Linked DNA regions of Homo sapiens. The protein of the gene in region 3 binds, or shares a complex with, the protein of the main gene of each other region. Each region holds a gene or a part of one and is shown on either strand. Other genes may lie near its edges. A codon is read from its position in the direction of its gene.

What was found.
Region 1: the proteins of YWHAG (region 3) and HDAC4 are in contact, whole or in part, in a crystal structure (PDB 3UZD), measured with the Homo sapiens proteins. Residues at the interface, in NP_036611.2 of Homo sapiens: Asn43, Leu44, Ser46, Val47, Lys50, Asn51, Arg57, Phe122, Lys125, Arg132, Tyr133, Gly174, Leu177, Asn178, Val181, Glu185, Leu221, Ile222, Leu225, Asn229, Trp233; in NP_001365345.1 of Homo sapiens: Ser348, Pro349, Ser350, Leu351, Pro352, Asn353, Ile354, Leu356.
Region 2: the proteins of YWHAG (region 3) and CFTR are in contact, whole or in part, in a crystal structure (PDB 5D3E), measured with the Homo sapiens proteins. Residues at the interface, in NP_036611.2 of Homo sapiens: Lys50, Arg57, Arg61, Lys125, Arg132, Tyr133, Leu177, Asn178, Val181, Glu185, Ile222, Leu225, Asn229, Leu232; in NP_000483.3 of Homo sapiens: Arg766 (codon at 4,440), Gln767 (codon at 4,443), Ser768 (codon at 4,446), Val769 (codon at 4,449), Leu770 (codon at 4,452).
Region 4: the proteins of YWHAG (region 3) and CAMKK2 are in contact, whole or in part, in a crystal structure (PDB 6Y6B), measured with the Homo sapiens proteins. Residues at the interface, in NP_036611.2 of Homo sapiens: Ser46, Val47, Lys50, Asn51, Arg57, Arg132, Tyr133, Gly174, Leu177, Asn178, Val181, Glu185, Ile222, Leu225, Asn229, Trp233; in NP_001257414.1 of Homo sapiens: Leu99 (codon at 5,961), Ser100 (codon at 5,964), Leu101 (codon at 5,967), Gln102 (codon at 5,970), Glu103 (codon at 5,973), Arg104 (codon at 5,976).

Annotation. Positions count from the first base shown.
Region 1 is NC_000002.12:239,397,904-239,405,989, reverse strand, and holds the start of HDAC4 (histone deacetylase 4), read left to right. Parts: upstream 1-4,969; 5' UTR 4,970-5,012; exon of another isoform or gene 5,013-5,613; intron 5,614-8,086. UniProt on the Homo sapiens protein: Responsible for the deacetylation of lysine residues on the N-terminal part of the core histones (H2A, H2B, H3 and H4).
Region 2 is NC_000007.14:117,588,024-117,595,698, forward strand, and holds part of CFTR (cystic fibrosis transmembrane conductance regulator), read left to right. Parts: intron 1-2,329; coding exon 2,330-2,416; intron 2,417-3,910; coding exon 3,911-4,634; intron 4,635-6,906; coding exon 6,907-7,035; intron 7,036-7,675. UniProt on the Homo sapiens protein: Epithelial ion channel that plays an important role in the regulation of epithelial ion and water transport and fluid homeostasis. Mediates the transport of chloride ions across the cell membrane.
Region 3 is NC_000007.14:76,355,992-76,363,727, reverse strand, and holds the start of YWHAG (14-3-3 protein gamma), read left to right. Parts: upstream 1-4,736; 5' UTR 4,737-4,919; coding exon 4,920-5,006; intron 5,007-7,736. UniProt on the Homo sapiens protein: Adapter protein implicated in the regulation of a large spectrum of both general and specialized signaling pathways. Binds to a large number of partners, usually by recognition of a phosphoserine or phosphothreonine motif.
Region 4 is NC_000012.12:121,272,518-121,280,192, reverse strand, and holds part of CAMKK2 (calcium/calmodulin-dependent protein kinase kinase 2), read left to right. Parts: intron 1-5,607; 5' UTR 5,608-5,666; coding exon 5,667-6,137; intron 6,138-7,675. UniProt on the Homo sapiens protein: Calcium/calmodulin-dependent protein kinase belonging to a proposed calcium-triggered signaling cascade involved in a number of cellular processes. Isoform 1, isoform 2 and isoform 3 phosphorylate CAMK1 and CAMK4. Isoform 3 phosphorylates CAMK1D.

The DNA.
Region 1 (8,086 bases), on a different chromosome or scaffold from region 3:
TTGAATCAGTCACCCAAGGCTGAAAGCTGGGCAAGGGGACCCAGGGGAGCGTCCATCACCAGCTGTTTTGTTGGTCTCTTGCTACTTATTTCAATGAGCTGGTTGTGTCATCCCTATCTGGAGCAGGTCTTGGGTTAAAGTGTTGGAGGGCAGAGGGTCCGCTGAAAGATATGGAAGAGTTGAAAGTCTTAGGGCTGTAATTTTCTGTCCTTGTGATAGTTTGCTCAGAATGATGGTTTCCAGCTTCATCCATGTCCCTACAAAGGCATGAACTCATCCTTTTTTATGGTTGCATAGTATTCCATGGTGTATCGATGCCACGTTTTCATAATCCAGTCTATCATTGATGGACATTCGGGTTGGTTCCAAGTCTTTGCTATTGTGAATAGTGCGTACCACTCATAGGGTGGAATTGAGCAATGAGAACACGTGGACACAGGCTGGGGAACATCACACATCGGGGCCTGTCGTGGGGTGGGGAGAGGAGGGAGGGACAGCATTACATATCTAATGTAAATGACGAGTTAACGGGTGCAGCACACCAACATGGCACATGTATACGTATGTAACAAACCTGCACATTGTGCACATGTATCCTTGAACTTAAAGTATAATAATAATAAAAAAAAGAAAGTTTTAGGGCTGTGAGAAGAGCCCTGAACTACCCCACCCCTGCTCCCTCCACTGCAGCCCAGGCTGCACCTCCCACATCTGTCCTACAGCCCCCGGCTCGTGCCCGCTTGACAGAGTCTCTCAGACCTTGCTGTCTCCTTAGTGAACTTCATGTCCTTCTTGAATTTTTTTAAATAATTATTTTTTTACAAAAGAAAAACATGTTCACTGAAGAATTAAGAAAACAAGTGAGCAAAAGAAAACAAGAATCTCTCATTTTCCACTTAGAAGAGGACACATTTTTCCTCATTGTTTTTGTGTCTATAAATGCTTTCATTTGTAAAAATTACATCACATTGTAATGAGGTCTTCTTGTCTTTCTTTTCCCTTGAAACTATAAAGTGAATTTCTTTCCCTGATATAAAACCCCTTATTTTTGGTGATATATGCATACATATTCATCCCAACCAACCATTGTTTCTGTGGACCTTTTAGCTAAATGTTTATCAGCATCCATGTTTGTCTCTTTGAATGAGGTTCTAAAATTGCAATCACTAGGTGAAAGAAGGTGCAAATTTTGCAGGTTTTATTTATGAGTGTGGTTAAGTAGCTGTCTGAAAGTTTCTATCAGTTGACACTCAGTTGCTGTATAATAGCGTTTATTTCCACACATTTGCTTTTATCAAACAAAGCATTGCACTTCTTTTATTAGAGAACATCCTGTCATGTTTATGGGCGTTTCTTCTTTTGTCTTTGCCTCTCCTTGTCCCTGCCTGCTTTATGTATGGGCTGCTCCGCTCTGAAAACCCTCCTGCCTGTGAAGATCAGCCTCTACGAATCCCACGCAAACGCTTTCCCCACTCACTTGTCTTAATTTTATTGTGTTCTGAAGCACCAGAAGTCCCCCCTTCCCCTCCAAACTGGGGCAGCCACTGCCTTCAACAATTTTTTTTTCTTCTGAATTAAAATCTTCCTGAGAAAGGCACAGCTCTTAAATTCAACGAGTTTTGATCGGTACGTACCCCTATGCGATCTACACCCCAGACAGAAAGTGTATTATCTCCATTGCCCGGGAAGGTTCTCGTGTCCTTCCCAGTCCACCCTCTGTAGGCCCCCAATCTGGAGAGAACTGTTCTGATCTCTACCCCATATTTGGCTGAATTTCATATTAACAGTCATACAGTGTAAACCCTTTTGTATCTGACATCTTTTATGATGTTCTTGACGTTCAACCGTCTATAACAGTTCATTCTTTTTTATTGCTGAGTAATATTCCCTTGTATTTTGCAGTTGGGGTTTATCCATTTTCCCACTGATTATACACTAAATTTTAATTACAACATAGCTAAATTCTCAATTATTTCCCTTTATGACTGTTGACAATATTCTTTATATTCCACAACCCTATAGAGATGTCCAGAGTTTTTCCTTAGTACTTTTTTTAAAACTGAAGTCTTTACTCCATTTGATGAGTAAAGATTTCAACTTTAATATCTTCTCTTCAAATGATTAGCAGGTACCCTACCATATTGCTTTCTCACTGATTTGAAAAGCCACTTTCATTATACTTTAAATCCCTACAGGGGTGGTATTAAAACTAGTCAATAGTTGGTGAGGCACAGGCACTGACCAGCCTGCAAAGCTGCCCATTAAGAACAGCTGGAGCACACTGATCATACACATATCGGCTGGGTATCAGCCTGGAGTCAGTACATTTGCTTGGGGCCATTCCTTTACTTTCTATTATTTTGCATTGATCTGGGCCAATATCACGTTGTTTTCATTTCGGAGCCCAGATAACATGTTTTTATTTTCTGGAAGCACAGTTTCTCCTTCATTACTCTTCTTTTTGACTGCTCTCAAATCTTTATTCTTCCAGATGAACTATTTAACGATTTTCACAATTCCCAGGAAGTTCTGTTGGAACTTACTGTTACATTTAGGTACTTAAAATGTTTTTGCTAATTGAGAATGTTTCATATTTTCTAACACATATGTAAGTGCTTAGCACAAAGCTCACCACATACTGAATATGCAACAATTATTTAATTACCGATTGAATGTTGTCAGTTATCTGAAAGTTACTGTTATTTGTATATTTTATAATTGGCCAGCTTGCCGATCGTAGCCAGTCTAGGAGTTCTACCAATTTATTGGATCCACCAACCCTAGATTTTAAAATTTGAGTCTTTGATGCTGGTTTCTTTCAACTGTGAGAACACGGAGATTCCTTTGAGTGTGATTCATTTGACTCTGTCAAATACCTGTATGTGAAGTCCCAAGCGCGAATGCTCCCAGGCATTGGGGTTGTCACCCCACCTTTCTCCTTATACACAGCTCACAGGATAGCGTGTTTGCTTTCACTGCACACTATCGTACTGAATTGCTCTGCACTGGCTGTGCACCGGTCTCCTTCAGACAGCCCCTCTGACACATAATGGCAGACACAGCCACCCAGGCCAAGTTTCTCTTTTCCAGACATGGCGAGTGAGGTTCTTGCACCATCCACCCAACGTCTGCGTGGTGCCTCACTCTGCTGGAGTGCCTCTCAGGACTCCTGTGAGGACTAAATGGCACGCAGCAATGGGGCTACCCATTCCTTCTAATGGAAATCTACTTTTTAAAAATTACCTCTGCAAGCATTAGATCCCAGAGCTCGTTTCACGTGACTTTTTGCGCAGGCACTTCTCTTTGTACGTGAAAAACTAACTTTGGTAGACTTACAGGCAGGTTTTAATATTTTCTCGTGATTGTATGTTTTTGAGAATCCTGTCAAATGATACTGAATCTTATCTAGATGTTAGCTAGCTACAGACCCTGTTTCATTCTACATGAAAATTAGATAGTGCACCGTTTCCATCAGCAGCCAAGTCTCCAAAACCCCGTAATTGCTCTCCTTTTCTTCAGCTGTATCTTGTTTTAAAGTTCTCTAATTCACCATTCCTTTCCTTCTAAGTTTAGCCTAAGCATTTCTTGCAATGACCAAAGTTTTCTAATTATTAATGAGATATTTAAGGAAATGTAAAATTGGCATTTTTATTTTGCTAACTGTATTTTTATCCACATAACTAGTTTCCCCCACCAAGAATCACAGGTCGAGAATGCTGTAAAAACGGATCCTTTCTCAGCTCCTAAAAGGAATGGCCTACAATCGAAGCGAACGCGCATCTCCGCCAGGTCCGCAACCACAGGCCCACGCCGTCGGGCCCCACGAACCGGCGCGCGCTGTCAAAGGCGCTTCCTCCCTGGAACGCGGGATTCCGGGGACAGTGTGTGCACTCAAGTTGAAAAGTTGTCATACTCCTGTTGGAAAGAAACGGAAACATCACCACCAGGAGGGTGGCCACTGAAGACCCTCGCCGACACCTGCTGGCAACCAAAGGCGCTTCCGGGGATCTACGGGCCGACCTGTAACTCAACACAAGCCTCCCAAGCCCTGCGGCCTTAAAACAACGCCCACCCGGGCGGTGCGCCGTTCCCGCCACCTCCACGCCTGCCTGGACCCGGACTCGAGACCCTGGCGGCGGGCCGGGCTCCCTCCGCCTGAGCAGGGACGCGGCGAGCGCATCCCACGACCCTCGGCAGCCGTTGCAGGCCTGGCGGACCTACACCCCACACCCTCACGGCCGCGTTCCCGCCGCGGGGCAGGGCGAGGCCCACGGCGCCTGCGCACTCAGTGACCGGGCCGCCCTGCGCCTCCGTGCGCACGCAGCACCACGTGACCCACTGCCAGTATCCAAGATGGACGCCGCGGCGAGGCCTGGCCGGCTCCCCGCGTTAGCCTGCACCCCATTGTGTGCCCTCTAAGCGCGAATTAGGCTCGCAGACATGCGGTGCTGACCGCTAGGCAGCCATGCGGGCTACCGAGTGCGACCGGACACGGCCGGGGCCCGTGTTTACGGCCACTACTGGCCCCCGGTCCCTGCGCCTCCTCAACCGCGAAGCACCCAGCGGCTGGCGCCTGGAGCGTCTTTTGGTACGCCCCACCCTCTAGAATTGGCAGCTCCAGCAGCCAATGAGGTCCAGGACGCGTGCGGGGAGGCGGGCAGGGGTGGAGCCTCTCTGCCGCTCATAGGGCATCCGGCCCCGCGGTTGAGCAGCCGCTGGGCGAGGGGTGGGAGCAGACGGGCTGTGCGCAGGTTTCAGCGGGCCAATGGAAGGCCGGCCAGGCGCCCGGGGCGGGCGGGCGGGAGGCGGGGCCGAGCCGTAATTGACGAGCTCTTCATTAGAAACCAGGCGGGAGGGCGGGGCCCGCAAGGGGAGGTGACGCAAGGCTGCCGCAGCCAATGGTTGGCGAGCCGCCGGCTGGCTGGGCGGGGCCGGGCCGGCTGACGGGCGTGCGGGGTGGCCTATCGCCGCCTGGCTCGACGCTGGAGTGGGGAGAAGCATCATGGTTCAACGTGGGTCAATTTTTTGTGAATGAGGAGGGGAGGTTGTGGGGCCGCCGCCGCGGAGCACCGTCCCCGCCGCCGCCCGAGCCCGAGCCCGAGCCCGCGCACCCGCCCGCGCCGCCGCCGCCGCCGCCCGAACAGCCTCCCAGCCTGGGCCCCCGGCGGCGCCGTGGCCGCGTCCCGGCTGTCGCCGCCCGAGCCCGAGCCCGCGCGCCGGCGGGTGGCGGCGCAGGCTGAGGAGATGCGGCGCGGAGCGCCGGAGCAGGGCTAGAGCCGGCCGCCGCCGCCCGCCGCGGTAAGCGCAGCCCCGGCCCGGCGCCCGCGGGCCATTGTCCGCCGCCCGCCCCGCGCCCCGCGCAGCCTGCAGGCCTTGGAGCCCGCGGCAGGTGGACGCCGCCGGTCCACACCCGCCCCGCGCGCGGCCGTGGGAGGCGGGGGCCAGCGCTGGCCGCGCGCCGTGGGACCCGCCGGTCCCCAGGGCCGCCCGGCCCCTTCTGGACCTTTCCACCCGCGCCGCGAGGCGGCTTCGCCCGCCGGGGCGGGGGCGCGGGGGTGGGCACGGCAGGCAGCGGCGCCGTCTCCCGGTGCGGGGCCCGCGCCCCCCGAGCAGGTGGGCTCCGGGCCGCCGGGAGTGAGGGCGGGGGCGGGCGGGCGCCGGGGCCGGCCGGGCGCCGTTTATGTAACTTTGTCAAATGCTGTGAGTTTGCAGAAAAACGTCCCTGCCGGGGGTCCGCGGCCCCGCGCTTGTCGTCGCCGCTGCGAGCGCCCGGGGGGTCGCGGGAGGGCGGGGGGCTGCCCGGGACCCGCTCGGCTCAGCCCGCAGGGCGCCAGCAGGCCGAGACGGGGCCCGGTCCCGCTCGGGGGTGGGATCCGCGTTTGCCGGCGTTGCGAAAACACACCACGGAATCATAAGCAAATTATCTCGTATTTACATTGAGCGTTGAATTATTTGACACTGTTATAGGAGGAGACCGTGCGTATCAGTTGGAAAGGCCGGGGGTGGAACCCAGTGTACTCATTTAATGCACATCAAAAATTTGTAATAACTTGAGGCAGCTGATATGAGTGTTTTCTTTATTGCATGTTGTAAATTGACCTGCTGTGACACAGTTTTCAAATAAAGCGTTGCAGAAATTAAACTTAAGTTATTTTAAAACTAATGACTTTCTTCACTAAATCCTAATTGCATGACTGTAGAGACCTACCTAATTGCTTGCTGAGAGCAGTTCTGCTTGCTCTCCGTGAGGGAGGAAAGGGCCTGTGCAGTCACTTTGCCGCCCCGTTTTTCTCTGTTCAGGCTTTTCTGTTTATTCCCACAAATCACCGAAGCAGTTAAGGCCTGGGAGTAAGCCTGTAAACAGTCCTGGCCCAGCGCCAGCCCAGCAGGACTGGGGGGATACTGGCAGGTTTGCACCTTGACCTGGTTTCACTTTTTCTTTTGTAATATGATCGTGGTTGCCTGGAGTTTTAATTGCTTCTGATAATTCTGTGCATTATTTTCGGGACTGTCCAAAGAAGGCTGGTGTGGTGGTTTCAGGACCTAGCCAGGAAAGGTGGTGGTGGTGGCTGGGGAGAGGGAGGGTGGAAGGGAGGGAGATCGAATTAAGAAAACTCAGCTGCTTGTACACAAATATACACTACAGCAGTTACAAAGCAACAAAAGTTATTGCAGAATTTTGCAGTAACTATGGCAACACAATTACTCTATTATAATTGGAAATGCAAAATGCCACCGAGTTAGAAGTTTCATCAGAATGGAGTTTTGGATATCAAAAATATGTGAAATTTAATTTTTTTTCAGGTAGCTCTTGTGAATTCTAAAATCTGTGTTCAATTACCTATTTTTAAGACTGATCGGGCTTTCCCAGATATTCTACTCTCTGGGATCTGTGGCATCTTTCCCCAGAAGAACTCACATTTGTGTGGGAGGGAAGTATTTTCATGCCTTAAAAACACACACCCCAACACATTGTAAGACTTCTATAGCTTTCTGTGTTCTGGGCTTTTATTTTAGAGATCAAATCCCATCCTAAAGAGAGCAGTAATCAATTAGAAAAGAAGCCGGCTGTACTCAGCAGGCAGATGTAACGCTGCCCTCTTTAGGGTTCTTTCTCCTGCAAGGGGAGCTGGCAGCAGGCATGCCCCCGGGGGAGCCCTGGGCTAAGGGGACGGGGTGGAGGGAAGATGACTGGACTGCATATGGGCCTGGAAGGCCTAGGGACGAAGGACAGATGTGGCCTCGGAGCCCTGCACCAGAGAGAATGTTCTGTGTTCAGCAGCTTCCTAGCCATGCAAAATAAAAATCCCCAAATGCCATATTCTCGGAGGCCTTGGGGGCTGTTGCTGTAGCAAGATGGACAGGACAACCTGGCACGCTGGCCACGTGCGGCTCAGGCAGCCCATCTGGACTCTGTGGCCAGAGACCTCGTTGAGAAGAATGCCCTATGGATGTTTACCAGGAGGACTCTAGTGCTGGAAGTTTCCACACATTGTGGGGTTGCTGCAGTTTAATTTTGTTATAACTCTTTCCTTTTAACTACTGCATATTTATGCCCAGTAATCGACTTCCATTCTCCAGCTTCATTGTGAGGTTTCAATGCAGCATGAATGGCTTTGAATTCCAATCCTTTAATGTTGGGGGTGGCACCAAAGGAAAGGCGACTTTATGCTGTCTTAATTGCCGGAGCAGAAGAAACATTTCATCACTCCTGTAGAATTCATCCATACCATTCTCTATTGAAAACGGCTGGGCTTTCATAGCTCAGAAGCTGCCATGAGTAATATATTAATACCTGATGTAGGGCGCGAAGGAGCCGCAGAGGCCGAGAGAACTGCCGTTGCTGAGAGGCAGCGGGGCGACAGGCTGTGGCCGGGCTTTCCTCCGAGGCTCAGAATTGATGACTAGCTGGGGATGGGGGAACTGAAGGGCGAAGGGGCCCAGTCTCCACCTAAGCTTGGGGCTGTGGAACCGAGACTGAGCCCCTGCCCTGTTGTTGGCAGCCCCCAGTCTGTCCTGGGGTAAGGAGTCGGAAAGGATGGATTTGGAGGGAGTGTTTGTTTTGATTTCAGGTGGTCAGCATATG
Region 2 (7,675 bases), about 41 Mb from region 3:
ATTATGGTTACTCAGAATCTGTGCCCGTATCTTGGTGTCAGTGTATTTGTTTGCCTCATAGTATAGTTTACTACAAATGGAAAACTCTAGGATTCTGCATAATACTGGACAGAGAAGATGTAAATATCTGTTAGTTCCATCATAGACCCTGCCACTCCAATGTACACACCAGCTTTAGGCTTCTTGGTATAGATAAACATACATTTTCAAAATTTTTCATCATAATTTTCATAACAAAATAGGAAGGCAAATGATGTCACTTGGCTTAAAATCTATAATATTTAAAATAAACAGGACAAATGCATTAACATTGTTGGGGGAGGAGGTCCCTTAGTAGAAACACTCTTGGTCCAAGCATTTTAAAGCTGTCAAAGAGATGTAAATATAGATAATGTATGTCAAGGAGAGAGCTTTGTGGTTAAACTGTAACTTTCAGTTTAAACAATTATTGGTGACTCTGATGTCAAATGTTTCTCAAGCTTTATCTGAACAAAATTCTTCTCACTTTGTTGCCAAAGTCGTTAACAAGAAATCACATTGACTCATTGATGTTTTGGCTCCTTTCCCTTACTTTCTGTTGCTTTCCAAAAGCTGAGACAGGAAACTAACCCTAACTGAGCACCTGCAATTGCCTGGTAGTATTCTAGTCATGTGTGTACTTTTGTGTGTATGTAATCCCCTTACAGCTCTGCAAAGTAAGAATTGTTCTCCCTGCTTTACAGAAGAGATCATAAGATAATTGAGGCTGTTAGATGTTAACTTGCCAAAAGCCATACAGGAAAATGGTAGAGTCACAGTTTGAACCAGGTCCTTTTGATTCTTTACATTAAACCATGCTTTGATCTTGGAAATACACTGTAAGGCAATAAATCAATAGATACGGATAATTCACAGGCTTCTAAATAAATGGAAGTTGATTGTTTTTATCTGTGAGCCAAAGTAAGACTTATTCTAAGAATTCCACAAATTTAGATAAGATAGAGTATATGGCTTCTAGACATCCAACATAGAACTGAGTTTGTGTTATCAGTTTAAGATTTGGTTTTGCTGTAAGGTGCACACACTTTGAGGAACTAAAAATAATTGTCTGTTCTTATTCTGATCAGAATGTGTAATGTGTTGTCCAGTTTTGGATGATGAATTTCTTATTTCTAATCTCATAAGAAACTTGTCATAGATGTGAGGGAGAGAATTAAGAACAGAGTGTGGGGAAGAAACTGTGTACATTTTGATGGGATCCATTATGTAGCTCTTGCATACTGTCTTCAAAAATAAGTTACACTATAAAGGTTGTTTTAGACTTTTAAAGTTTTGCCATTGGTTTTTAAAAAAATTTTTAAATTGGCTTTAAAAATTTCTTAATTGTGTGCTGAATACAATTTTCTTTATTACAGAAGTACCAACAATTACATGTATAAACAGAGAATCCTATGTACTTGAGATATAAGTAAGGTTACTATCAATCACACCTGAAAAATTTAAATGTTATGAAGAAATTATCTCATTTCTATTAATATGGGAACTGTGTCTTCATCTTTATTACTGTTCTAAGGTCAACTCAATGTAGATTTTACTTGCTTATGGTTTCATATTTTAGCTAAATAGTAAAATAATATGGATATACATTTTGTTGTGACTTACTCATACTTTCCTTATTTGGAACTTTTATGAATATGATATAGAGACTGAAACTACAAGGAACAAAATGCAATATCAATTATACAGTTGTGGCAGCACTGCTATCAATTTGTTGATAGTGGTTAACACTTAGAAAAACATTTTAAAAATAATTTCACATAAGTAATGTAATTTATTAGCTGTCTCTGACATTTTACAGTTTGGAATAGTTTATTTTCTTTTTGGTGTCCTCACCAAAACCCAACATCTTCAAGGGCAGGAACTGTATAATTTTTGCCATTGTATTTTGAGCACATAGCATGGTACTTGCCTCTAAATAGATACTATTGTTAAAATATTTTTTAAGGTAATATTTTAAAGTGTATGCTATGGTACAGTTCAGTTTGTGACTTTTGCTAGTTTATGCCACTTACAGTTAGCAAAATCACTTCAGCAGTTCTTGGAATGTTGTGAAAAGTGATAAAAATCTTCTGCAACTTATTCCTTTATTCCTCATTTAAAATAATCTACCATAGTAAAAACATGTATAAAAGTGCTACTTCTGCACCACTTTTGAGAATAGTGTTATTTCAGTGAATCGATGTGGTGACCATATTGTAATGCATGTAGTGAACTGTTTAAGGCAAATCATCTACACTAGATGACCAGGAAATAGAGAGGAAATGTAATTTAATTTCCATTTTCTTTTTAGAGCAGTATACAAAGATGCTGATTTGTATTTATTAGACTCTCCTTTTGGATACCTAGATGTTTTAACAGAAAAAGAAATATTTGAAAGGTATGTTCTTTGAATACCTTACTTATAATGCTCATGCTAAAATAAAAGAAAGACAGACTGTCCCATCATAGATTGCATTTTACCTCTTGAGAAATATGTTCACCATTGTTGGTATGGCAGAATGTAGCATGGTATTAACTCAAATCTGATCTGCCCTACTGGGCCAGGATTCAAGATTACTTCCATTAAAACCTTTTCTCACCGCCTCATGCTAAACCAGTTTCTCTCATTGCTATACTGTTATAGCAATTGCTATCTATGTAGTTTTTGCAGTATCATTGCCTTGTGATATATATTACTTTAATTATTATTATACTTAACATTTTTATTTACTTTTTGTGTTAGTATTTTATTCTGTCTTCTCCTTAGATAGTAACCTTCTTAAGAAAATATATATGCTAAGTGTTTTACTGGTTTAATATGCTTAGACTACTCATCTACCTCAATACTTCCTTGGAGATCTCCTCCTCAGTCACACAGAGCTCAGGACTTATATTTCCTTGGAACTCCTGTTAGGGTCCAATGTACATGAAATTCCCTAGACAGACAGACAGTCAGTTATATGGCTTGATTTCAAAGTTTCAAAATGATTTAATGGACTATCAAGTAGTTTATTAGGAGAACAGTTATTATACTCTTCTAAAAATAAAGACTTTAAGCAATAAAGATGTATATGTATATAAAATGGCTGGGTTATTCCTAGAAGTACCTTTCTTAGAATTTAGTTAAATTTAATATCCAAGATACTATCTTTTCAACCCTGAGATTGTGAAAAGTAACTTCTATCAATATAAACTTTACTACATTTGTATTGTGTTAGTGTGTTACAGTATAATCTAGAACAATGTGTCTTTCTATATGATATATGACATTTTAATGCCTAAAAAAACTGATATGTCTTAGATGATTCTAGTCAGGATTTACTTCTAGAATAGATTAAAATTCTATTTGAGGAGAGTCAAATTAATTATCGAATTCTCAGTTGTTATTATTGCTGTTTTATTTTTAGTGAAACAGATTAGTCTTAATGTAAACACTTGAGAAATAAATTGATGGTCAACCTAAAATGTAAAAAAGAAATTAATAGAAAATTTAAAGAGCAACAAAGCTCTGACATTTAAAAGAAATGAAGTACAAATCTCTAGGGACCTTAAAGATCATCTAATAATTTCCTCATTTTCTAGATAAATAAACTGAGAGACCCCGAGGATAAATGATTTGCTCAAAGTCAAATATCTACTTAATATAGGAAATTTAATTTCATTCTCAGTCTGTTAACATGCAACTTTTCAATATAGCATGTTATTTCATGCTATCAGAATTCACAAGGTACCAATTTAATTACTACAGAGTACTTATAGAATCATTTAAAATATAATAAAATTGTATGATAGAGATTATATGCAATAAAACATTAACAAAATGCTAAAATACGAGACATATTGCAATAAAGTATTTATAAAATTGATATTTATATGTTTTTATATCTTAAAGCTGTGTCTGTAAACTGATGGCTAACAAAACTAGGATTTTGGTCACTTCTAAAATGGAACATTTAAAGAAAGCTGACAAAATATTAATTTTGCATGAAGGTAGCAGCTATTTTTATGGGACATTTTCAGAACTCCAAAATCTACAGCCAGACTTTAGCTCAAAACTCATGGGATGTGATTCTTTCGACCAATTTAGTGCAGAAAGAAGAAATTCAATCCTAACTGAGACCTTACACCGTTTCTCATTAGAAGGAGATGCTCCTGTCTCCTGGACAGAAACAAAAAAACAATCTTTTAAACAGACTGGAGAGTTTGGGGAAAAAAGGAAGAATTCTATTCTCAATCCAATCAACTCTATACGAAAATTTTCCATTGTGCAAAAGACTCCCTTACAAATGAATGGCATCGAAGAGGATTCTGATGAGCCTTTAGAGAGAAGGCTGTCCTTAGTACCAGATTCTGAGCAGGGAGAGGCGATACTGCCTCGCATCAGCGTGATCAGCACTGGCCCCACGCTTCAGGCACGAAGGAGGCAGTCTGTCCTGAACCTGATGACACACTCAGTTAACCAAGGTCAGAACATTCACCGAAAGACAACAGCATCCACACGAAAAGTGTCACTGGCCCCTCAGGCAAACTTGACTGAACTGGATATATATTCAAGAAGGTTATCTCAAGAAACTGGCTTGGAAATAAGTGAAGAAATTAACGAAGAAGACTTAAAGGTAGGTATACATCGCTTGGGGGTATTTCACCCCACAGAATGCAATTGAGTAGAATGCAATATGTAGCATGTAACAAAATTTACTAAAATCATAGGATTAGGATAAGGTGTATCTTAAAACTCAGAAAGTATGAAGTTCATTAATTATACAAGCAACGTTAAAATGTAAAATAACAAATGATTTCTTTTTGCAATGGACATATCTCTTCCCATAAAATGGGAAAGGATTTAGTTTTTGGTCCTCTACTAAGCCAGTGATAACTGTGACTATAAGTTAGAAAGCATTTGCTTTATTACCATCTTGAACCCTCTGTGGGAAGAGGTGCAGTATAAATAACTGTATAAATAAATAGTAGCTTTCATTATTTATAGCTCGCAAAATAATCTGTATGGAAGTAGCATATATAAGGTATATAAACATTTAGCCTCTTGATAGGACTAACTCACATTCTGGTTTGTATATCAGTCTTGCCTGAATTTAGCTAGTGTGGGCTTTTTTTTATCTTGTGAGTTTGCTTTATACATTGGGTTTCTGAAAAGATTTCTTTTAGAGAATGTATATAAGCTTAACATGTACTAGTGCCAATCTTCAGACAGAAATTTTGTTCTATTAGGTTTTAAGAATAAAAGCATTTTATTTTTAAAACAGGAAATAATATAAAAAGGAGAGTTTTTGTTGTTTTAGTAGAAAACTTAATGCCTTGGATGAAATGAGCCATGGGCAGGGTTGTAATGAATTGATATGTTTAATAGTATAGATCATTTGTGAATAATATGACCTTTGACAAGACACAAGCCATTAACATCTGTAGGCAGAAGTTTCCTTCTTTGTAAAATGAGGGAATAAAATAGATCCCTAAAGTGTGTAATTTTAGTATTTCTAAACTTTATGAAGGTTTCCTAAATGATAATTCATCTATATAGTGTTTTTTTGTGTGTTTGTTTGTTTGTTTGTTTGAGATGGAGTCTCGCTCTGTCACCTAGGCTGGAGTGCAATGGTGCAACCTCGGCTCACTGCAACCTCTGCCTCCTGGGTTCAAGCTAATCTCCTGCCTCAGCCTCCTGAGTAGCTGAGATTACAGGCATGCACCACCATGCCGAGCTAATTTTTGTATTTTTAGTAGAGAAGGGGTTTCATCATGTTGACCAGGCTGGTCTTGAACTCCTGACCTTGTGATCCACCCACCTCAGCCTCCCAAAGTGCTGGTATTACAGGCGTGTGCCACCACGTCCAGCCTGAGCCACTGCGCCCAGCCCATCTATATAGTTTAATATCAATCTAAATGAATTTCTCAGTCCTGAGCCTAAAAATTTAGTTGTAAAGAATGATATCCTTGACTAATAATAGTTTCTATTAATGGATTGCATCTAGTGCTAGGTGGCATATATTTAGTCCCCACAACTACCCTGGAAGGTATTTAAAATTTTTCACATTTGCAGATAAGGAAACTAAAGTTCAGAGTTCGGCAACATGCTTGAATTCAAGCAGCTCCTAGGATGTTAATGGTGGAGGTTGGGTTCAAATCCAGATCTGTCTGACTCAAAAAATGCATACTCCTAACCAGTGCACTATATCCCAATTCCATAGGAGCCCTTCTTTGTGATTCATAGCACTTTCCCATGAGTTTTGTTGATTTTGTGAGAAACAAAACTCTTTTTCCTTTGGACTGTCTGGAATCTCTCTTTTTCAAATTTTTGAAATGTATTTCTATGCCAAAAGACAAAGATTTCTAGAGGAATATGCCTAGGATGAGAATTATGTAATTTAAATCACAGCTGGAAAGAGAGAAAGTCCTAAGTTACTAAGAAATGTTCAAACACAAATGAGCTTTCAGTCTATTGGAAGACCTTTATAGCTAGAAGTATACTGAACTGTACTTGTCCATGGACCCCTGAAGAAACAGGTTAAATCAAAGAGAGTTCTGGGAAACTTCATTTAGATGGTATCATTCATTTGATAAAAGGTATGCCACTGTTAAGCCTTTAATGGTAAAATTGTCCAATAATAATACAGTTATATAATCAGTGATACATTTTTAGAATTTTGAAAAATTACGATGTTTCTCATTTTTAATAAAGCTGTGTTGCTCCAGTAGACATTATTCTGGCTATAGAATGACATCATACATGGCATTTATAATGATTTATATTTGTTAAAATACACTTAGATTCAAGTAATACTATTCTTTTATTTTCATATATTAAAAATAAAACCACAATGGTGGCATGAAACTGTACTGTCTTATTGTAATAGCCATAATTCTTTTATTCAGGAGTGCTTTTTTGATGATATGGAGAGCATACCAGCAGTGACTACATGGAACACATACCTTCGATATATTACTGTCCACAAGAGCTTAATTTTTGTGCTAATTTGGTGCTTAGTAATTTTTCTGGCAGAGGTAAGAATGTTCTATTGTAAAGTATTACTGGATTTAAAGTTAAATTAAGATAGTTTGGGGATGTATACATATATATGCACACACATAAATATGTATATATACACATGTATACATGTATAAGTATGCATATATACACACATATATCACTATATGTATATATGTATATATTACATATATTTGTGATTTTACAGTATATAATGGTATAGATTCATATAGTTCTTAGCTTCTGAAAAATCAACAAGTAGAACCACTACTGATATTTTATTATTTCATATTACATATAAAATATATTTAAATACAAATATAAGAAGAGTTTTTAATAGATTTTTAATAATAAAGGTTAAGAGATTCGAAAGCTCAAAGTAGAAGGCTTTTATTTGGATTGAAATTAAACAATTAGAATCACTGTTGATATTTTATTATTTCATATTACATATAAAATATATTTAAATATAAAGATAAGAGTTTTTAATAGATTTTATAATAAATGTTAAGAGATTAAAAAACTGAAAATAGAAGGCTTTTATTTGGATTGAAATTAAAGGCCAGGCATGGTGGTTCATGCCTGTAATCCCAGAATTTTAGGAGACTGAGTGGGGAGGATTGCTTGAGCCCAGGGGTCAAGACCAGCCTGGGCAAC
Region 3 (7,736 bases):
AGTCTCACTCTGTCGCCCAGGCTGGAGTGCAATGGCACAATCTTGGCTCACTGCAACCTCCACCTCCTGGGTTCAAGCGATTCTCCTGCCTCAGCCTCCCGAGTAGCTGAAACTACAGGCACACGCCACCACGCTTGGCTAATTTTTGTATTTTTAGTAGAGACAGCATTTCACCATGTTGGCCAGGCTGGTCTCAAACTCCTGACCTCAGGTGATGAGCCCACCTCGGCCTCCCAAACTGCTGGTATTACCGGCGTAAGCCAGTGCACCTGGCCATATTCATTTATTTATTTCCTATTCTCTCTCTATGTACTTATCATGTGCCAGGTACTCTGCTGAGCACTGAGAAGCCAAGGTGAGGATGAAAAAGACAAAACCCAAATCTGATCATTTTCTGCCATTGTTAAAATCTCTTCACAGGCTTCCGATTAATTTCAGAATAGAAATTTAACTCCTGGGGCTGCCATTCAGTGCCCCTCATGTTCTGGCCCCTGACTCTATCCCCAGCCCCTTACCCATCACCCAGACACCAGATACATCAGATTCTTTGCCTATCAATAAATATTTCAGGGGAGATGGGTGTGGTGGTGCATGCCTGTAGTCCCCACTACTCAGGAGGCTGAGGTGGGAGGATCACTTGAGCCCAGGAATTAGAGGCTGCAGTGAGCTATGATCGTGCCACTGTACCCCAGCCTGGGCAACATAGTGAGACCCCCACCTCTAAAAAATAAGTACATAAATAAATAAGTCAGGGAGGAACTTGCCTTTGAGTCTTGCTACCTGTGCCTTTGCCTGCTCTCAAATCCTACACTCATTTAAAGGCTGGGTTGGAAATGTTACCAAACTCCCTGGAGAAGCTTTTCAGAATCTCTTCCTATGCAGCCTGAAAGAAGTTATTTTTTAAACAAAATATTTACAGTGCTTAACACACTCTGAATTCCTTGAGGACAGGGGTCCTCCAGCATCTGGCATAGAGCCTGCAATATTCCCCCATGGAAACTCTTTCATTCCACATTCTCATCCACACTTCATGTTTCCTATTTTATTTTTCACTTCTTATTGATTTTTTTGTTGTTATTTAGTTTTTATTTCATAGTCACAAACTTAACTCTGCAATCCACCCAGACATGGAAGGGAATAAGAAAATCATGGGACTCAAAGGGAACTGTAGCAAGAACACAAAGATGATAGGATACTGGGAGCAAATGGGGTGGATGGATAGGTGCTCTCCTGAGCTACTGAAGGAATGGTCTGGTGGTTAAGATAAAACACAAGTCAAATTTACTAGAGTTGTCCACAGTCAGCAATGGTGATTTTATTTTATTTATTTATTTATTTTTTAGAGGGAGTTTCACTCTTTTTGCCCAAGCTGGAGTGCAATGGTGCAATCTCAGCTCACTGCAACCTCTGCCTCCCAGGTTCCAGCGATTCTCCTGCGTCAGCCTCTGGAGTAGCTGGGACTACAGGCACCTACCACCACGCCCAGCTAATTTTTGTATTTTTAGTAGAGACAGGGGTTTCACCATGTTGGCCAGGCTGGTCTCGAACTCCTGACCTCAAGTGATCTGCCCACCTCGGCCTCCTAAAGTGCTAAGGTTACAGGCGTGAGCCACCGCGCCCGGCCATAGCAATGGTGATCTTCTTGCTGGTCTTGCCATTCCTGGACTCGTAGCGCTCCATGGCCTCCACAATATTCATGCTCGCTTTCACCTTGCCAAAGACCTCCATGCTGGCCATCTAACCACTTAGTCTTGGCAGTGCAGATGAAAAACTGGGAAGCATTTGTGTTGGGTCCAACATCTGCCATGGGCAAGATGCCAGGATCTGTATGCTTCAGGATGAGGTTCTCTTCATCGAATTTCTCCCCATAGATGGACTTGCCACCAGTGCCATTATGGTGTGTAAAGTTACCACCCTGACACATAATCCCTGGAGTAATTCTGTGAAAGTAGGAACCCTTGCCGGGCGTAATGGCTCACACCTGTAATCCCAGCACTTTGGGAGGCTGAGGCGGATGGATCATGAGGTCAGGAGTTCGAGACCAGCCTAACATGGTGAAACACCGTCTCTACTAAAAATACAAAAATTAGCTGGGCGTGGTGGTGCGCGCCTGTAATCCCAGCTACTTAGAAGGCTGAGGCAGGAGAATCGCTTGAACCCGGGAGGCAGAGGTTGCAGTGAGCCAAGACTGCACCACTGCACTCCAGCCTGGGCTACAGAGCGAGACTCTGTCTCAAAAAAAAAAAAAGAAAAAGAAAAGAAAAAAAAAGAGAGAGTAGGAACCCTTATAACCAAATCCTTTCTCTCCAGTGCTCAGAGAACGAAAGTTTTCTGCTGTCTTTACAACACTGTCTGCTAACAGCTCCGATATGTTAACATGGCTTTACAGTTTAGATGAGAGGTCACTTCTTTTTTTTTTTTTTTTTTTGAGACGGAGTCTTTTTCTGTCTCCCAGGCTGGAGTGCACTGGCACAATCTCGGCTCACTGCAAGCTCCGGAGAGGTCACTTGGCTTCTTGGTTTCCATGCCCCTAACCTTGAAGGAGACGCAGCCCAAGGGCTCAATAGTAATGTCAAAGAACACGGTGGGATTGACCATGGCCAGTAGTAGAGTACTCCTGGCAGCAGCAGAGTCTGCAAAGCTCACTTTTTTTTTGTTTTGTTTTTTGATATGGAGTTTCGCTCTTGTTGCCCAGGCTGAAGTGCAATGAAACGATCTCGGCTCACTGCAACCTCCACCTCCCAGGTTCAAGCAATTCTCCTGCCTCAGCCTCCCAAGTAGCTGGGATTACAGGTGCCCACCACCACACCCAGCTAATTTTTGTATTTTTAGTTGAGATGGGGTTTTGCTACGTTAGCCAGGCTGGTCTCGAACTCCTGACCTCAGATGATCCACCCGCTTCGGCCTCCCAAAGTGTTGGGATTACAGGTGTGAGTCACCGTGCCAGGCCAAAGCTCACTTCTTTTTTTTTTTCGAGACGGAGTCTCGCTCTGTCACCCATGCTGGAGTGCAGTAGAGGGATCTCAGCTCACTGCAACCTCCGACTCCCGGGTTCAAGTGATTCTCCTGCCTCAGCCTCCCGAGTAGCTGGGATAACAGGTGGGCACCACCACGCCCAGCTAGTTCTTTTGTATTTTTTGTAGAGACAGGGTTTCACCATGTTGGCCAGGATGGTCTCGATCTCCTGACCTTGTCATCCGCCCGCCTCGGTCTCCCAAAGTGCTGGGATTACAGGTGTGAGTCACCGTGCCCAGCCTTTAAAAAACTTTTTATTTTATTATTTGTTTTTGAAACGGAGTCTTGCTCTGTCGCCAGACTGGAGTGCAGTGGCGCAATCTCAGCTCACTGCAACCTCAAAACTCACTCCTTACTGACTTCTAGCATACTGTACATATCTCACCTATTTTCTTGGGCAGGGATTTTTGTCTGTTTTGTTCACTACTGTACCTCGTGGCTTAGAATAGGGCTTGGAACACAGTAGCTTCTCATAGATAATTGTTGAATACATAAAGTAAATAAAATGTGCAGTCAAAACTATCAGGCCTGCAGGCATGGTGGCTCACATCTGTAATCCCAGCACCTTGGGAGGCCGAGGCGTGAGGATCGCTTGAGCCCAGGAGTTCGAGACCAGCATGGGCAACAAAGCTAGACCCCCGTCTCTACAAAAAAGCAAAACAAAGCAAAAAAACCCATGCTATCTGCAAGCTATGTGGAATAATATGAACGAGAATATATCAGCGTGACCTCAGTAGGTATGTATGTCTTAGGAGGGGAGAGAAGGGCTGGACAACCAAGCCCTAGACGCAGCCCAGTTAGATGTGGAGTAGGCTCCTGGTAGCTGAACTCAATCTTTAGCACTCCACCCTGGAGAGGAAGAAGGGGTTCTCCAGGGTCAGCCAGCAGACAGCTGCATCCTTTCTGGAAATCAACCACTGTGGCCAGCCGGTATTTGTCGTTCGTCCATGTTTTCACCTATTCAGGCCCAAGAGCCTCAAGGTGGGGTGGGGGGTTTAATGGAAGCTCGTAGGGGGTGGAGGTGACAGTCCCCAGGGTCTGGCCCCTTAATTCGGCCATCCCGCGGGCAGGCACCACACTGAGAGTCTGGATCTACAATGGACGCGCCTCCTGTCCTTCCCCCACCACGACCTGCTACGTGATCTCGGAAACAGGGTCTAGGACTGAGGCCCCTGCCCCCTCCTCTCGTAATTTCCCGGAGAATATGGGGCGGGGCGGTGAATCAGCACTCGCAGGGACTGATGCAGCCCTGATCCCCGCCAGGGGTCCCCAGCGGCCTCGGGATTCGAAGCACCCCCCCCCGTCCTCCTGCGCCTGCGCGCTATGTCCGCTGGGAGTTGTAGTCTTGACCGCCCCTTTGTCCTTGGTCTCCTCAGCGCCTCAGTGCACTGCAGGTTACACTACAACTCCCAGGGGCCCATGCGTCCGAGGGCTGGCGGGGCGGGAGGCTCAAGGGGGAGGCGTAAGGGGGCGACTGGAGAAGCTGGGGTGAGGGAACTGGGGAGTGAAGTGAAAAAAGGGGAGAGTGGGGGCGCAGTGGGAAAGGACGGGGTGCCCGGAAGACGCGCAGTGAGCCCAGCTGGGGAGCGGGGAGTTCTAGCCGCGGCCGGGCTCGGGCGGGGCATGGGCGGGGCTTGCGGACGGGTGGGCGGGGCCTGCCTTCGTCATGCGGCGTGGGCGGGGCCGCAGGGGGTTGTCCGTCAGTGGCACGCACAGCAGCCGCAGCCGCCTCGCGCCCGGTCCCGCGGTCGCAGCTCCAGCCGCCTCCTCCGCGCAGCCGCCGCCTCAGCTGCTCGCTCTGTGGGTCGGTCCTCTCCGGCACTTGGGCTCCAGTCGCGCCCTCCAAGCCCTTCAGGCCGCCCCAGTGTCCTCCTCCTTCTCCGGCCAGACCCAGCCCCGCGAAGATGGTGGACCGCGAGCAACTGGTGCAGAAAGCCCGGCTGGCCGAGCAGGCGGAGCGCTACGACGACATGGCCGCGGCCATGAAGAACGTGAGTGTCTCCTCCCCTCCCCCGCCGCTCCCTGCCCCTCCGAAGACGCGGTCCTTGGCGTGGAAGGCCCGGGGCTTCGTCGCCCTGTCGCGATGGCGGGTTGACCGCCCCGTCTCGCTCACTGAGGGGGGCTGGGGAGGGTCCCGAGAGGCGACGGGAACCCGGGCTGTGACGCGGCCTCTTTTCGGAGTCCCCGTGGCCCCGCGGCGCTGCCATTCAGGCCCGGCGCGGGCGCGGGCCGGGGCGAGGTCCCGCGGGGCTGGACTTGGGAGCGGGGTCTCCGGCCCCCGCGGCTCTAGGGGTGCAGGGGACCCGAGCGGGGAGGCGTGCGCATCCTTTGTGCCCCACTTCCCCCCTCCTCCTAGCCTGGGCGTGGGGGCGGGGGACCGCATGGATGCGGTTCCTCTTTCTCTCCCTGGTGTCTGGGCGGCGCCTTTCCCATTCACTCAGCAGGTCTCCCGGTTTTCCACCTCCCCAGCCCCCCCAGAATCTTCCCCACTGTCTGTCCCGACACATCCCTGAGAATCTTCCCAGAAACATTGTATAGGGTCTCTTGAAAACCTGAGCTCCGTGGTGCAAAATCGAAACCACCTTGCTCACGTTTTTCTTAACAAAAGGCTCTTCTTTCTCCATTCGCCCAAAGCAAGTCCTCCGGCTTTTAGGAAGGGAGAACGTTTGTCTCGCTAGCGTTTTCATTGATCATTCTCAACATGTCATCTCCATTTTATTCCCTAATGTTTTTGTATTGAAAAGGGTAGGTATTGCCTGTAAAATTAAAAGGTGGTGAATGTAGCTGACTGGTTCGATTCGTGTGACATATGCCGTTTCTTTTTTGAATACAGGCACGCGTCTGTTGAAATTCCTATAAGTTGGGGGAAAAAATATTCTGTCTGATCTGATAGTGCAAACAAAGCCGTGGTGAGAGGCAGTATCAAGTCATTCCAGAAGATTCTGCATTTGTCATATTGCAGAGAGCCTAGACTGGGTGGAGGCTGGGAGGAGTTATTTTAAAGGGGAAAAAGTCTTTTTAAAAATTTTTGGTTGTTAGATGCATCTGAGGCTTTTTTTTGTTTAAGCGAGTACATCTTCATGCTGATGAAAAGAGAATACCGATCGCCAGTTGTCGCATTTTGTCTGGGTTGCAGATTCATCCCTGTATTGCACCATTTTGTCAGTAACACCACATTTATCTAATGGGCTGTCAACCAGTTTGATATTAGAGGAGGGGGAAGTATTGAGCATTATGAAATGAAAGGTAGAAAATTAATCTAATGATTTCGGGCCCCCACTATCTTAATATTTAATTTCCTGCCTTATGTAACAAAGATTTTCAAATTCATCTCCATTGTGAAGTGGATGCTGGAGTGTACCTTGCGTGTTACATCTTTTAAATGAAGCATTATTGATATTACAGATCAATTCTTGAATAAATTTACTGGTTCTCAAAAGAGGACAATGCTGATACCTTTATATTTAAAGCAGCTATGTTAACAAAGAAAGGTTTTTGTCTTATTGAAGAGAACTGATTCTGAAATTCGGAATACTGCTGTGGCCACAGTTGCTGTCTTACAAGGTTTTAATGCTTAAATGATGTAAGTTGCACTTCTAATAGGTATCAGTATTGGAAATATCTTCAGTTCGTGTTATTTAGACTCTTATAATTTTTCCATATTTCTTTTCCATATTTCTAGTTCCACAGGAAAGCGAGTGACCTCGCACCTATATCCATAGCAACCAAGTGATGTCACACACAATGACACAGAGGCTGCAATGCACCTAAGGGCTGGTAGGGAGTGTGCAAATGGCATTTATCCAAGGTAATGCAGAAATTAGCCGATAAGCCAGGTGGAATCGAGCACTTCATATTCCACTAGATGAGAATTAGTCCAAAAAATAAGGATATCATTTACCCTTAGACATGCAAATCTGTGACCTCTAGCTAGGCCTTGTTCACCCTATTGCTAGCTTTCTCACAAAAGTTTATAAGATGCTTTTTTATATTTTTAAACATTCATCTCATTTATTTAAAATACTGGGCAATGATGGAATAAAAGTAGAAATTTTAAACGATAATTTATGGAATAAAAGAAATTTTAAACAAGAATATAGTTTATGACACTAGTGCACAGATGGGATGTATACTTGTGTTTATTGCAGATAATTAATTTGGCAGGTTTTAATAAAAACCTTAAAAAAATGATGACTTCCTACTGAGTCATTTTCAGTTACTAGTAGGGAATGAAAACCCGTTCCAAAACCTTTTAAGTTGAGATTTGGGAAGTTTGTTTTTTACTAGATTTGTGCTTCTGCTCCTTCACAGTATAGAGGAAAGAACAGTTTGTAAAATAAAAACCTTTTTTCAAATCTGTTTCCTGTGACTTTAAGGAAATAGGCTCTGTCCCTCATTTTCCTCATCTGTAAAATGGGACAATACTTGAAAAAGTTGTGCGGATTCAATAAGAAATGTAGTAGGTGTTCCAAAATGGCAACTACCTAAGAAATTTTCTTCCTGTTTATAAAAGTCATCGTGGAGAATTTGGAAACTGCAGAGAAAGAAACCAATCTTACCACTCAAGTGAGCTCTCTTTTAAGGCCGAAATCATCCTGTTGATAAAGGGATTAAAATTTATTTGAGTTTAATGAAATTATCCTAGTGCTAACACTATTGGGATCTGTGCAGAATGATAGTTCTTTGTGGGTAACCAGGACAGAAGTACTGTATTGTGCAGT
Region 4 (7,675 bases), on a different chromosome or scaffold from region 3:
AATCTTCACAATCCATGTTCTTCTGCCATGGCTTTAGCCGGTCCCTCCGTTTGGGGTCCCTGACTTTGGCTGGCTGAGCCCATTTTCCCAAGGAGGACATTGATGTCCCGGGCAGGACATCGTCCGTGGCCTTGGCAGGATCCTCGGAGCTGTTTTGGGCCTTTTTGTTGTGCCCAGGATGAGGCAACCTCGGGGGAGCCTGCACAGGTGTGTCCGGGCTCGGGAGCACCTCTTTGGCACCCACTGGCAGCTTGCTGCGCGGGAGGTAGCGGATGCAGGTTGGAAACAGCCCCTAGGAAATGAGAAGGTGTTTCCTGGAGGCCTGCGCCACTCAGCTTCCTGGCAGAGGAAGGAGCGTTTCCCTCATCCTGGCCCGGGTCCCGGGTCCATCTGCTCCAGGAAGGCTCTGGTGGCTCGTGATGAGCTGCCCTGTGAGAGGGAACAGGGTAGAGGCAAGGCCTTGGGGGATGGCCTCTGCCTGGATTTCATGGGGAAGGATGCAGGGCCAGGGCTGACATTTTGTCAAATCCAAGCAACTTTGCAAAAAAGTCCTCCTCTCACGCTCCGCCCTCTGGAATCGAATGCTTCACTGTCCTTCCCTGGCAGAGGGCCTGGTCCTGTGAGGGTTACATGGCCAGGCGGTTATCTCCGTGCTGGGTGCCTGATGAGAGCTCAGTTGAATGTTAGCCGTTGCTGTTTCCAGGCTAAACTATTGTCTTTTTGCATGATTTCTTCTGCACAGAGTGTTGGTAGCTTTCATCAGATCTTTGTAGGGTCTGTGACCCCCAAACCGTTCAGGACACTGGCCTAGACTCTAGGTGTCTGTGAGGCCAGAAGCCCCTGGATGCATCTCTTCCTGTCAGGGCCTGCGTCCCTGGGGCTCCTCTCTGCTGAGCTCTGGGGTTTCACGCTTGCCCTGCCAGCGCCGACGTCCCTGCCCGGGGTCTGAGCTGTCTCTCCTCTCCATCCTCCAACAGACCGCAGAGGCCGAGACTCCGTCAGAGCTGTGAGGGAGGCCCGGGCCAGATGCCAGCTTGCCAAGGAGGCCGATTAAAAGCAGCCTTGCTGGGGGCGGATGGCTCAGTGCCCTTGGCCTGGTGTAGAGTTCGATAAGCAATTGTTTTCCTGTTGGTGAGAAAAAAACAAATCTCCATTGACTTTCCCAGGCACTGCTCAGCCTCATTTTCTTCTCAGGAACTCTTGCAGCCCTATCAGAGGCAGCTCTAGGATAGGGGAGAGACTGACTGCCTGCCCTGGGGGACGCAGGCCACACAGCCAGGGCTGAGGGACACACTTAAGAGCAGGCCAGCTCGCTTGGACATTGGTCCTCGTGGGAACATTCCAGAGCATAGGCTACCTACCAGAGCAGGCCATGGGCATCTGTATTAGTCCGTTTTCACGCTGCTGATAAAGACATACCCGAGACTGGGCAATTTACAACAGAAAGGTTTAACTGGACTTATAGTTCCACTTGGCTGGGGAAGCCCCATAATCATGGCGGAAGTCAAGGAGGAGCAAGTCCGGTCTTACATGGACGGCAGCAGGCAGCGAGAATGAGGAAGATGCAAAAGCGGAACCCCCTGATAAAACCATCAGATCTCGTGAGGCTTACCACCATGAGAACAGTATGGGGGAACCCGCCCCCGTGATTCAATTATCTCCCACTGGGTCCCTCCCACAACACACGGGAATTATGGGAGTACAATTCAAGGTGAGATTTGGGAGAGGACACAGAGTCAAACCATAGCATCCAACAGGTGTTTGTTGAAGTAATAGTTTTTGAGTACTTAACCACTTGCAGGGCATGATTCTGAGTGCTTGGTTCATCTAATCCTATGACTATCAGATGGGCACCAACTTTACAGGATGTCAATGACCTTAAGCTGTTGAACTTCAGGGTATCTTGAGTTTCCTCTTCTGGGACATAAGGACCATGAGAAGGAGAAGTAAAGTAGCAGCAGCTAGGGCCATAGAGAAATATCAAACTTGAGTTGTATTCTCTCATTGATGGGGAAACTGAGACAGGGACAGAGTTGATGATTTCTTTCTGAGATACAGTAAGGGGGAATGGGGGACAGAGAAATAGGAGATAAGACCAACTGCTCCCCTCTCCTGACCTCCTGCCCCGTCTGATCCCGTAGCATCCTAGGCCTTATCATCATAACTCCGATCATGGTTACAGGTATTTTCTTTCCTTTAAAACACTTTTTATTTATTTATTTATTTTAGATGGAGTCTTGCTCTGTTACCCAGGCTGGAGTGCAGTGGCGCAATCTCGCCTCACTGCAACCTGTGCCTCCCGGGTTCAAGTGATTCTCCTGCTTCAGCCTCCTGAGTAGCTGGGATGACAGGTGCCCAACACCACGCCTGGCTAATTTTTGTATTTTTAGTAGAGATGGGGTTTCACCATATTGGCCGGGCTTATCTGGAACTCCTAACCTCAAGTGATCTGCCTGCCTTGGCCTCCCAAGGTGTTGGGATTACAGGTGCGAACCACTGCATCTGGCCTGAATTTGACTATTCTAGATACTTCATGTAACTGAAATCTTACAACACTTGTCCTTTAGTATCTGGCTTGCTTCACTTAGCGTATGTCTTCACGGTTCGTCTGTGTTGTAGTGTGAGTCAGAGTTTCCTTCTTTTTTGTGGCTGTATAGTATTCTGTTGTATGGCTCTGCCACATTTTGTTTATTCATTCGTCTGTTGATGGACACTTGGTTATACCTTTTGGCTATTGTGAATGATGTTGCTATGAACATTAGTGTACAAGTATCCGTTTGAATCCCTACCTTCAATTCTTTTGGGTCTATACCTAGGAGAGGAATTGCTGGTTATATGGCAACTCTACGTTTAACTTTTTGGGGAGCCACCAGGCTGCCTGATTGTAGTTTGAATTTGCAGTTCTCTTACTGTGAGGTTGAACATCTTGCCGCATGATTGGACTCTTTGGCGTTCTCTTACCACACACTCTGTGTGCATGAGTCAGGCCCGTGTCAGGGCTGGGGCGTTGGGTTTTCCCTTTTGCCTTTCCTGTTGGGCTTTCCCTGCCACGTGCCTGGCGTAGTAGCTATTTCATCAGTTCTTCTGGAAGGACCGTTCCGAGAGCGCTGAGGGCCATTTTCTGCCTCTCAGCCAGATCCTCCAGGGAGCTCTGGCTTTCCGCTGTCTGTACCTTCCTCTCTTTTACCCCACTACCTCCCAATGTCATCGGAGATACCATTTTATTCATTCATAAAATCTCTGCTGAGCCCTCACTGTTTTCCTGGGACATCTAGAGAGACCCCCCCCCCACCCCGCCCTTTTTTTTTGAGATGGAGTCTCCCTCTGTTGGCAGGCTGGTGTGCAGTGGTGCAACCTCAGCTCACTGCAACCTCCGCCTCCCAGGTTCAAGCAATTCTCCTGCCTCAGCCTCTCCAGTAGCTAGGATTATAGGCATGAGCCACTACACCTGGCTTATTGTTGTATTTTTAGTAGAGACGGGGTTTCACCATGTTGGCCAGGATGGTCCAGAGAGACCCTTTGTGATGTGGGTGATTAGCATGGAGTGGCCATCATCCACAGGTGTCTGTCCACAAATGTACTCCCTGAATTCCAGTGGTACCTGTGACATTTGTCCAGCAGAATTTGTCAAACACGTTAAGCAAAGGTTAATGTTCTGTCCCAGAGACGGTAAGAATTGACAGCCTAAGGGGATGTGTTAATCTTTTTTATTTTTATTTTTTGAGATGAGTCTTGTTCAGTCACCCAGGCTGCAGTGCAGTGGTGCGATCTCGGCTCAGTCATTGCAACCTTCACCTCCCGGATTCAAGTGATTCTCCTGCCTCAGCCTCCCGAGTAGCTGGGATTACAGGTGCCCACCACCATGCCCAGGTAATTTTTGTATTTTTAGTAGAGATGGGGTTTCACCAGGTTGGCCAGGCTGGTCTTGAACTCCTGACCTCAGGTGATCCACCTGCCTTGGCCTCCCAAAGTGCTGGGAGGATTACAGGTATGAACCACTGTGTCCGACTTCTCTCTCTTTTTTTTTTTTTTTGAGATGGAGTCTCACTCTGTCATCCAGGCTGAAGTGCAGTGGCGTGATCTCGGCTCATTGCAACCTCCGCCTCCCGGGTTCAAGTGATTCTCCTGCCTCAGCCTCCTGAGTAGCTGGGACTACAGGTGTACATCACCACACTTGGCTAATTTTTGTATTTTTAGTAGAGATGGGGTTTCACCATGTTGGTCAGGCTGGCCTTGAACTCCTGACCTCATGATCCACCCGCCCTGTCCTCCCAAAGTGCTGAGATTACAGGCGTGAGCTGCCGTGCCTGGCCTTTTTTAAAAAATTGAGATATAAGTTCATGTAACATAAGTTGGCCATTTTGAAGTGTATAGTTCAGTGGCATTTAGTACGTTCACAATGCTGTGCAACCATTACCTCTATCTAGTTTCAAAACGTTTTGATCACCCCAAAAGGAAAACCTGTGCCCATTAAGCAGCCATTCCCCACACCCACTAATGTCACCACCCCCATAGTCCTAGGCAACCATTAGTCTACTTTCTGTCTCTGTGGAGTTGCATATTTTAAAAATTTCATATAAATAGAATCATATATATGTGACCTTTTGTGACTGGCTTCCTTCAGTTAGCATAATATTTTAGAGGTTCATCCATATTGTGGCATATACTTGATTCCCCCCGACCTTTTTTTTTTTTTTTTTTTTGAGACAGTCTTGGTCTATTGCTGAGTTGCTGAGGCTGGAGTGCAGTGGCATGATCTCGGCTCACTGCAACCTCCGCCTCCTGGATTCCAGCGATTCTCCTGCCTCAGCCTCCTGAGTAGCTGGGATTACAGGCACACGCCACCATGCCCGGCTAATTTTTGTATTTTTAGTAGAGATGAGGTTTCACCATGTTGGCCAGGCTGATCTGGAATTCCTGGCTTCAAGTAATCTGCCTGCCTTGGCCTCCCAAAATGCTAGGATTACAGGTGTGAGCCACCGTGTCCAGCCCTGACCTGCATTGTTAATGCCCAGCATTTAAAAATAAAAAGTCAGGCAAACTTATTAACCTCCTTAGGGCTTCTCTTGGGAAAAACAAAGGGAAGACCAGCAATAGTAGGCCCAGATTCCTGCCGAGCAACAATTGGCTTGAGCTGGAAGCAGCTGTCAATTCTGTAGGGGATATGTGTGCTCTATTTGGGGGTTTTCTTATACTTGTTCCTATAGGAATTGAGTTAGGAATTATTGTCATGGTATGTGAGAAGTGGTTCCAGCTACTTGGGAGGCTGAGATGGGAGGATCACTTGAGCCTAGGAGTTCAAGGGTACAGTGAGCTATGATCGCACCACTGTACTCCAGCCTGGGCAACAGAGAGAGGGAGAGACCTTGTCTCAAAAAAAAAAAAAAGAAAAAAAAAGAAAAAATAATAAAAGAAAAAATATAAGAAGATGCAGACTCTGCTTTTCTGTATAGACTCAGAGATCAGATCACACCATGTTTTGCAAGATTTTTTTAGGATGTCAACTGGAGGCAGGAATTAGACAGCAGCCTGGGCCAGGAGGAGAGGGGATCCTTTCCTGTCCCTGCCCGTAGGAGCTGGGCCAGCTGACCCTTTCTCTTTCTGCAGGTGGCTCCGCTGCCGGATGGGAGTGCCCCAGTGTGCTGGATGAAGCTGGCGCATGCACCATGTCATCATGTGTCTCTAGCCAGCCCAGCAGCAACCGGGCCGCCCCCCAGGATGAGCTGGGGGGCAGGGGCAGCAGCAGCAGCGAAAGCCAGAAGCCCTGTGAGGCCCTGCGGGGCCTCTCATCCTTGAGCATCCACCTGGGCATGGAGTCCTTCATTGTGGTCACCGAGTGTGAGCCGGGCTGTGCTGTGGACCTCGGCTTGGCGCGGGACCGGCCCCTGGAGGCCGATGGCCAAGAGGTCCCCCTTGACACCTCCGGGTCCCAGGCCCGGCCCCACCTCTCCGGTCGCAAGCTGTCTCTGCAAGAGCGGTCCCAGGGTGGGCTGGCAGCCGGTGGCAGCCTGGACATGAACGGACGCTGCATCTGCCCGTCCCTGCCCTACTCACCCGTCAGCTCCCCGCAGTCCTCGCCTCGGCTGCCCCGGCGGCCGACAGTGGAGTCTCACCACGTCTCCATCACGGGTATGCAGGTGCGTGAGCCGGTGGTGAGCCAGGTCCTAGGGGTCCCTGGTGCCCTTCCCTGCCCCCAGCAGGGCCTCTGTGGAAGGTTGGGCTCCCCCAGAAGGATCTGAGTGCCACGGTTGACCTAGGAGTTGACTCCAGGGAACCTTGGGGGCGGCTGGGGCCAAAAAGGGGCCCTAGGGGGGTCGTGAATCAGCATGGGGAAGGGAAGGCAGTCAGCAAAGGGTGGGTCATGGAGCCGATTACCAGTGTGGAGTGTGGGCCGCTGGGGCTTTTTCCTTCCGTGGGACCCTGGGGAACAGCACAGAGCAGCAGCCTCAGTCATCCCACCAGGGGCAAGGGAGCTGGGGTATTTATACTCATGGGTGAGGGCTGCTGGGGCAGGTGTGTGTGACCCCCTGTGGGTGTGGACAGAGCAGTTGCAGGGCCGGAGGGAGCCTCCAGCAAAGAGACTGAGGTGTGGGCGAAGGTGTGATGGAATGAGGCGGGTCACTGAGAGCCTGGCGACGACCCGCCTGGCCGAGCGTGTGTTGGCACCAGGCACTGGGTTCAGCACTTGCTGTGCATTTCTCACAGGACCCTTACCGTAAACCCTGCGGGGATACAGAGAACTCAGATCCTCACCAGGGTTCACAGGGCCCTGTGTGGTCTGACCCTTTCCCATCCCTCCTGCCATTCTGCTGCCAGCTCCCTAAGCTCCCTCTGTTCCTGCCTTCACATTCCTCGGAATCCAAGCTCTTGCCTTGGGTCTGTACTCTCGCTGTTCCTTCTGCTTGGAACCACCTCCCCCACCACCCCATGCCAACTTTGTAAGGCCTATTCCGATAATGTCCAAGTCTCAACTCCAGTATCACCTCCTCCAAAAGGCTTCCCGGGCCACCATCCCTAAAGCACCCTCCAGCCTCTCTCTGCCCCATGGCCCTATTTGCTTTCCTTCATAACGTTAATCAGCATCTGATTATCTGTGCGTTGGTTTAGTTGTTTATTGCCTGTCTCCACCCAGCCAGAACGTAAGCTCCATAGGATCATTTCATCCACCTCCACACCCTATCCCATCCCCAGAGCCTAGCACAGTACCTGGTGCATAGTAGGAGCGCAAAAATATTTGTTGAAGGAACGAATGAATTTAATTGGAAGAAGACCCAACATCAGGATGCCTTTCTAAAGGGGCTTTTTTTTGTTGTTGTTGTTGAGACAGAGGGTTGCTGTGTTGCCCAGGCTGGAGTGCAGTTGCGTGATTTTGGCTCACTGCAACCTCCACCTCCCAGGTTCAAGCTATTCTCCTCCCTCAGCTCATGAGTAGCTGGGACTACAGGTGTGCACCACCATGCCCAGTTAATTTTTTTTTTTTTTTTTTTTTTTAAGTAGAGATGGGGTAATGCCATGTTGGCCAGGCTGGTCTCGAACTCCTGACCTCAGGTGATCCACCTGCCTCAGCCTCCCAAAGTGCTGGGATTACAGGCATGAGCCACTGTGCACTGCCAAAGGGGCTGATTTTGAAGGGGCTATAGGGACTACATTTTGAAGGCCAGGAAAAACTTTCATA